Regions from separate parts of the Homo sapiens genome. Here region 2 is reported to be linked to region 1. Evidence: microRNA targets listed by miRTarBase, many of them from high-throughput screens and not tested one by one. Region 1 holds a microRNA gene; the other region holds the end of a gene's coding sequence.
Evidence for each region. The annotated mature microRNA hsa-miR-520h reads ACAAAGUGCUUCCCUUUAGAGU and lies in region 1 at 2,113-2,134, opposite strand. An mRNA with a match to its seed (bases 2 to 7 or 8) in the 3' UTR can be bound and repressed. Matches are read on the target gene's strand: a 7mer-m8 pairs with bases 2 to 8, a 7mer-A1 pairs with bases 2 to 7 and ends in A, and an 8mer does both.

Region 1 (4,096 bases):
TTACAGATGTGCACTACCACACCCCGCCTTTTTTTTTTTTTTTTTTTTTTTGAGACGGAGTCTTGCTCTGTCACCCAGGCTGGAGTGCAGTGGTGCGATCTCAGCTAACTGCAAGCTCCGCCTCCCGGGCTCAGGCCATTCTCCTGCCTCAGCCTTCTGAGTAGCTAGGAGTACAGGCGCACACCATCACGTCTGGCTAATTTTTTTTTTTTTTTTGTATTTTTACTAGAGACAGGGTTTCACCGTGTTAGCCAGGATGGTCTCAGTCTCCTGACCTTGTGATCCACCCACCTCGGCCTCCCAAAGTGCTGGGATTACAGGCGTGAGCCACCGCGCCCGGCCCACACCCAGCCTATTTTTTACTTTTTTGAGACTGAGTCTCACTCTGTTGCCCAGGCTGGAGTGCAGTGGCTCAATCTCAGCTCACTGAAAGCTCAGCCTCCTGGCTTCAAGTGATTCTCCTGCCTCAGCCTCCTGAGTAGCTGGGATTGCAGGGGTGCACCACCACCCCGTCTGGCTAATATCTATATTTTTAGTTCAGACGAGGTTTCATCATGTTGGCGAGGCTGGTCTCAAACAACTGACCTCAGGTGATCCTCCTATCTCAGCCTCCCAAAGTGCTGGAATTACAGGCGGGAGCCACCGTACCCAGACTAGTCCCATCATTAAAATTAGGGAAAAAACAAAGATGCCCACACCTGAACAGCAAATCATTTGTTGTTCAAGGACATCTCAGATACATTGTTTGTCTAAAATACAAGTTTAACTGAGGGCCCGGTGTGAACCAAATAATGGTTCTTACATTCTTCTTGTCTGTGCATGGGTTAATATTCACATGTAGTCCCATCTAGCAAGGACTGCGGGGGGCAGAGGCAGGAGGATCTAAGCCCACTTTAGCCAGGGTGGCATAGTGAGACCCCCGTCTCATGCATTTATTTCCTGGTCACGCACCCAAGATTTCAGCTTCATTTCCCCAATAAACACTGAAGCCCCATGCACTCCACCTCCGTGCTCTTGCTCATCCCATCTGCAGGGACACTGAGGTCCCTTCAACTCCACCTGACCCCACGTGAGGTTCTATACCAGTGCCAGAAAAATTTCGATAAAGTAAGAGGTGTTGATGGCCACGCACCATGGCTCATGCCTTTGGGAGGCCGAGGCGAGCAGCTCACGTGAGTTCAGAGGTTTGAGACCAGCCTGGTCAACATGGTGAAACCCCGTCTTTACTTGAAAAAAAAAAAAAAAAAAAAAAAATTCAGGCCGGGCATGTTGGCTCACACCTGTAATCCCAGCACTTTGGGAGACTGAGGCAGGTGAATCATTTGAGGTCAGGAGTTCGAGACCAGCCTGACCAACATGGGGAAGCCCCATATCTACTAAAAATACAAAATTAGCCAGGTGTGGTGGCACATGCCTGTAATCCTAGCTACTCAGGAGGCTGAGGCAGGAGAATCACTTGAACCCAGGAGGCTGAGGTTGTATGGGCCGAGATCATGTCATTGCCCTCCAGCCTGGGCAACAAGAGTGAAACTCCATCTCTCTCTCTCTCTTTCTCTCTAACACACATACACACACATACGCACACATTCGAAAAGCAGTCAGGCGTGGTGGTAAGCGCCTGTAATTCCAGCTACTCAGGAGGCTGAGGCAGGAGAATTGCTTGAACCTGAGAGACAGAGGTTGGAGTCAGCCGGGATCGTGCCATGGCCCTCCAGACTTGGCAACAGCAAGACTCCACCTAAAAAATAAATAAATGAATGAATAAAAAAGAAAAATACAAATATTAGCTGGGCATGATGTCAGGTGCCTGTAATCCCAGGAAGCTGAGGCAGGAGAATCACTTGAACCCAGGAGGTGGAGGGTGCAGTGAGCTGAGATTGCACCACTGCACTCCAGCCTGAGTCACAGAGCAAGACTCTGTCCCAAAAAGGACCATTTGAGCCCAAGAGACCTAGGTTGGAAGTGCCTCTGTACTCCAGCCTGGGCCACAGAGACCCTGTCTTAGAAAACAAAAAAAACCCAGAACCCCAACATCATCCAAGTCTGATGATAAGCATGCAAATATATTACCAACATCAGCATCAACTTCAACACTGCTTTTCCCAAACAGTAACTCTAAAGGGAAGCACTTTGTTTTTTCTCAGACAACAAACAGAAAGTGCTTCCTCTAGAGGGTCACAGCATGGGATCTTCTTGCTCCAGCACTCTGGGTTTCTTGTTGGAATTTTCCTTGACCAGGTTAAAATACACACAAAATAAAGATGCATTTATTGGCCCTGTTTGCATATTTTCTGGAATCCAGAACATAAACCCCTAAAAGGACCATCTCCAGTTCCTTGCTTCAAAGGCTCAGCAGGTTAGCCTTGTTCACCAAGGGGCAACCCTCCTGAGTTTTGTCCCCAAAGAGAAAAAGCAAAGCCTACTACACATACCTTATATTTAACCAAGAGATTAGGGCAGAATTTCCAGAGAACAGCAATGGATTTTGAGCCAAGTGTTCAGCTGAGTTCCAGGACAGGGGCACACAGTCCCGATGGAAGCATCCAAAATGGAATCTACAATGTTGAAGAATATACATTGTCTCACACACAAACATCCTCCAAGATAGACCACAGTCTAGGCTGACTCTACAGGACCATTTGAGATTAGGGGTGATGGCTCACAGCTGTAATCCCAGTACTTTGGGAGGCCAAGGCTGGTGGATCACCTGAGGTCAGGAGTTTGAGACCAGCCTGCCCAACATGGTGAAACCCCATCTCTACTGAAAACACAAAAATTAGCTGGGTGGGGTGGTAGGCACCTGTAATTCCAGCTATCTGGGAGGCTGAGGCAGGAGAATCACTTGAACCCGGGAGGCCGAGGTTGCGGTGAGCCGAGATCGCGCTATTGCCCTCCAGCCTGGGCAACAAGAGCGAAACTCCGCCTCAAAAAAAAAAAACAAAAAAACAATAATAATTAGCAAGACCTGATGGCAGGCAACTGAATTCCCAATGATTCGGCAGGCTGAGGTGGTAGAAACACTGGAACCTGAGAGGTGGAGTTTCCGGTCAACAGAGATTCTGCTACTGCACTCCCAGTGAAACCAGAGTGGGTCTCAAAAAATCAAAAAATAAAAAGAGGACCACTTGAGCCCAAGAGATCTCGGTTGGAGGTGCCACCCACTCTAGTCTGGGCAACAGAGACACTGTCTTGGAAAAAAAAAACAAAACAAACAGAACCCCAACATCATGCACGTCTGATGATAAGCACGCTCTGCAAATGTGTTACCAAGATCAGCAGCATCTTCAACGTTGATTTTCTCAAACAGTAACACTCTAAAAGGATGCACGATCTTTTCTTAGACAACAGACAGTGCTTCCATCTAGAGGGTCACTGCCTGAGATCTTCTTGCTCCAGTACTCTGGGTTATTTTTTATGTATTTATGTATTTATTTATTTATGTATTTATTTTTTGAGATGGAGTCGCCCAGGCTGCAGTGCAATGGTGTGATTTTAGCTCACTGCAATCTCCTTCTCACGGGTTCAAGAGATTCTCCTGCTGCCGCCTCCCACGTAGCTGAGACTACAGGTGTGTACCACCACGCCTAGCTATATTTTGCATTTTTAGTAGAGAGGAGGTTTTGTCTTGATGGCGGGGCTGCTCTTGAACTCTGACCTGAGGTGATCCACCCGTCTCGACCTCCCAAAGTGCTGGGATTACAAGCGTGTGCCACCGCACCCGGCCTATTTTTTATTTTTTTGAGATTGAGTCTCACTGTTGCCTAGGCTGGAGTTCAGTGGTGCGATCTCAGCTCACTGAGAGCTCAGCTTCCCGGCTTCCTGTGATTCTCCTGCCTCAGCCTCCTGAGTAGCTGGGATTACAGGCGTGTACCACCACCACACTGGGCTAAGTTTTGTATTTTTAGTAGAGATGGGGATTCACCATGTTGGCCAGGCTGGTCTCAAACAACTGACCTCAGGTGATCCTCCTGTCTTGGCCTCCCAAAATGATGGAATCACAGGTGTGAGCCGTGGTACCCAGCCTTGTCCTATACTTAAAATTAGGAACAAAAAAAGATGCCCACACCTAAACAGCAAATCATTTGTTGTTCAAGTA
Region 2 (4,079 bases), not on the chromosome of region 1:
TCTCTACTAAAAATACACAAATTGGCTGGGCGTGGTGGCGCAGGTCTGTAATCCCAGCTCAGGAGGCTGAGGCATGAGAATCACTTGAGCCTGGGAGGCAGAGGTTGCTGTCAGCTGAGACTGTGCCACTGCACTCTAGCCTAGGTGACAGAGCAAGACTCTGTCTTGAAAAAAAATTGCGGTCTGGCTGGGTACAGTGGCTCATGTCTGTAATCCCGGCACTTGGGGAGGCCAAGGCAAGAGGATCACTTGAGGCCAGGAATTCAAGACCAGCCTTGACAACATAATGAGACCCTGTCTTTACAAAAAATTGTTTAAAAAATTAGCCAGGCATGATGAGGCACCTTTAGTCCCAGCTACTCAGAGTCTGAGGTAGGAGGATGGCTTGAGCCCAGGAGGTTGAGGCTGCATTGAGCTATGATCACGCCACTGCACCCCAGCCTGGGCAACAAAGCAAGACCCCATCTCTTTAAAAAAAAAAAAAAAAAAAGTGCAATATGGTTCTGACTTCACTAGACCTCTCTGACCACTAAAAGCCAAATCCTGAGAATTTGGTAAATTCAATGTTCCTATAGGAAGAATGTTATTCTACTAATAATGGCTAACATAACTGAGCACTATGTTGAACACTAATAATTCCTATATCATCCTCAGGCCCCTCTATACTCTGTGGACGTATCAGCCAGATTTTATACATGAGGAAACCAGTGCTCAAAGAGATTAATTGCCCACACACACATTGCTAAGAGGGAGCACAGCTAGCATTTGAAGCCACATCTCACTGTCTCTTTATCATGGCAATGGTCCATGGGCAGAAAGCATAACCCACGTGTACACAAATGAAGATCCCAACAGTCCCCTCTCTCCATAGTAAGGGGGGTAGAAAAGGTGGGACTTGTACCCAGCACTAGACTCTTTTAACAGCCATGAACAAAACATGTATTTAATTGTCTAGGAAACTGTACCATCTATATTTAAGTAAATTGCACCTAGAAACACTCCACCTTGTATCTTTTGTTAAAATCCTATATTTCATCATTTGCTCCAAACAGTGCAAAACTAAACACCAAAATATAAATCGTATACTTGGTATTGGTGCATATTCTGACACACCCACATTTTGCAATGTAATGTCACAATGTAACGTCGCAGCAGGAAGAATTGAGAGGTGAAGCTGTCTGATCTCATCTCACAATTCAGGCTTAGAGTCAACTGGAAATCCAAACAAGCACTAAAGCACGGTCAGCAGGCACAGTACATGTGTGTGTCTCGTGTGTCTCTCACACACGTACTGTCTTTCAAATGCACAGATGCTTCTGTGATTCATACAAATGCATTTGAAAGTATGACTGGATCTACAATAGTTTTAGCATTTCTGTATTTTCTCAAACAGCAAATACTAAACACATGACCATTTTCTGGGAGTTAGGATTCCCAACTAACCCCTTTGAGTTCCAACATTCTGAGAGTTTTAAACAGCAGTTGGCCAGGGGTCCCAAACAGATGATCCTAGGAAAACAGGAGGCTGGGCAGGGGTGGGAATCTAAGGGCTCCTGTCTTGGTCCCAAAAATCTCAGTTTCAAGCAAGAAAGGGAAAAAAAAAAGGCTCCAAAGTGATCAAAATGTTGCTACATTTTATTTTCAACTTAAAACTTCATTATAAAATTTGCCAAATAAACATGTCAAAAACAAACTTAAAAACAAAGTGTAGCTGATATCCAGAAATTGCAGCACTGTATTGATAAAGGGCTCTTTTCATTACCAGGGAAAGAATTTAATGTCCTTCCTTCCTCCCCAAAAGCTTCCTTGGTGCAATCCAGTACAGAAAACGCCACCACTTTCTGATGCCAGGAGAAAAGCAAAATAAAAAAACTGCTTGCACACATTAGCACTGATAAAACAATGACAATTTCACTAAAAGAATGTTTAAAGACTACCGGATGCTGGAGCAAACCAACTTCATGACTGCATTAACATAAGCTAAGTTACATACACTTCAAATGCAGTATAGAATTAACACTGCATATCTAAATGGCTCATATATAAAATGTGTAATTAAAACCCAAACATACACACTATGTTTATTACATTCCCCTACATTGAAAGTACTGAGAACAATTTAACTCTGAACACAAAAGTTTAGTGAATTTGCTACTGTTCCATTACAGGACAATTAAAAATGAGACTATATCAACTTCACTAGAATTTAATTGCTAAAGCTACCTTATGCACATCTATTAAACTAAAAGAAACGACTTTAACCCCTTCAGTTGTTTTTAAGACAGCACTCCTTTACAGGGAGTCAGGTTTGGTAAATATAAAGGATACATAAAAAATACAGTATAAACTGCATAAGCTTAACAGTAGCAAAAACACTGATGAACTTTTAAAAAGTCAAAAATATATAAAAATATTAGCCTGAAATGGCAAATTTTCAAACACCGATCTGTGTAAAAATGTTTAAATATTGATGTTACTCCAAAAATATATACTTATTCTATTTTTTTTCTATTTGCAACAGTTTATAAAGGCAAACAAACACCTGCAATTGAGGTAGCAAAGCCAAATTCACAAACTTTGGATCAAGAAAAATACCCTTCCTATGTTTTAACAGCATCTTCTATACAATAGTGAATGAATTCTAATTGTTCCAAAATTTTTAATTCACATTACTTTACAAAATTTTATTTAAAATACTGAAAATGTTTTGTTAAAAAGACAGTTAGTCCTGACAATCATCTCACATTCAAAATACTGTACAAAAAAATCTGAAGTCACCATATATTACAAAAAACTAAGCTATGTATTTACATTTTCAATGTAGTTTTAGAAGTTGAGGTTAAGCCAACTGCTACAAATGGTCTCCTTTAAGCAGTGTCTGCTAATAATGTCATCACTTTTCACTTTCAGCATTTAATATAGGCCCTTCTTTTTGCTTTCAAATTATATAATTAGTAAAGGATTTAAAGAAAAACAAATGAAAATTCTATTCTCTTACTGAATAAAACATAAATGTACTTTAAATGGAACAGTGTTTTCATTTAAGAAAAGCCAACTGGCAAAAAAACATCAAAATTTGAAAAGTAATCAGAAACCATAAACATCAATAGCATTCTTCACAGTACATTTATATTAAGACTGTCTTCTGTTTTCAGATTAAGGGTTGAAAATTTCCCATTAAAATGCAAATTCTCACATCCTTACTTGTATTTTTCCTATGTTAACTGTAAGTTAATACAAGTAAACACGGCTATATTAAAAGATCAACTACTCGGCTCCATAGTCCTGACTCAAAAAGAAAAAAAAAAGTACAGACCCTGTCAGTGCAACAAAAGAAAGTTTCGGATTTTTTTCCTTGTTTTTGCAAATGGCAGCTGGAATTGCAGGAGTATTTTGTAGAAAAGCCAGAAGAGCATTAGTAGATGTATGGAAATATACGGTAGGGCACACGCTGACAGTACTTTTCCCAAGCCACGCCGTATTTCTTCTTACAGTGGTACTCGTCACGAGCTTCTCGGTGGACAAGCAACATGGTGAAATAAATTATGTAGAAATAAGGCAGAATGTGGTTAAAACCTGTGGATAATAATAGTACACAGTATTAGATATTTTTATTATCACTACAATGTATTTTTTCCTGCTTTCCCCCAAATTCTCTAAAAATGGAACCACAAGGTACTTCATTTTCTCTAATAATGATGAGAATAATTAAACAAGTCTGTAAAATCCCACTGGAAAGTGGCAGAAGGTCGTATCTAAATTAGAAGCTACTCAAAGACTGATGAATCCATTCTAACAATCCATCACAATCAAAACATCTGTCCTCATAGTTAATACACATCTCTTCATTTCTCGCCCTTCTTCCCCCAGCAAAGAAGAAAAACTGCTGTCTTCCACCACAGGCTGGGCCACCAAACAGGCAGCAGGCACGGGCCAGCTCCTCCACCTCCACCAGCTCCCCTGGATCCCCCTGCTCCCCCAGTTCCCCCAGCTCCCCCAGCTTCCCAAGATCCCCCTGCTCCCCCAGTTCCCCCAGCTCCCCTGGCTCCACCAGTACCTCCAGCTCCCCCTGACACCCC

Region 2: miRTarBase lists LBR as a target of hsa-miR-520h. Seed matches in the 3' UTR shown: 7mer-m8 at 1,702-1,708.

What each region holds. Positions count from the first base shown.
Region 1 is chr19:53,740,604-53,744,699 of GRCh38, reverse strand. It overlaps MIR520H (microRNA 520h), which reads right to left and starts at 2,188; the gene lies at 2,101-2,188. It overlaps MIR517C (microRNA 517c), which reads right to left and starts at 3,387; the gene lies at 3,293-3,387. It overlaps LOC124904765 (a long non-coding RNA gene), which reads right to left. Exons shown (of 6, transcript XR_007067334.1): 2 at 2,433-2,555.
Region 2 is chr1:225,399,888-225,403,966 of GRCh38, forward strand. It overlaps LBR (lamin B receptor), which reads right to left. Exons shown (of 14, transcript NM_002296.4): 14 at 1,615-3,576. The coding sequence ends at 3,416. Among named protein-coding and RNA genes, the nearest start is that of LBR, 26 kb to the right of the region's middle.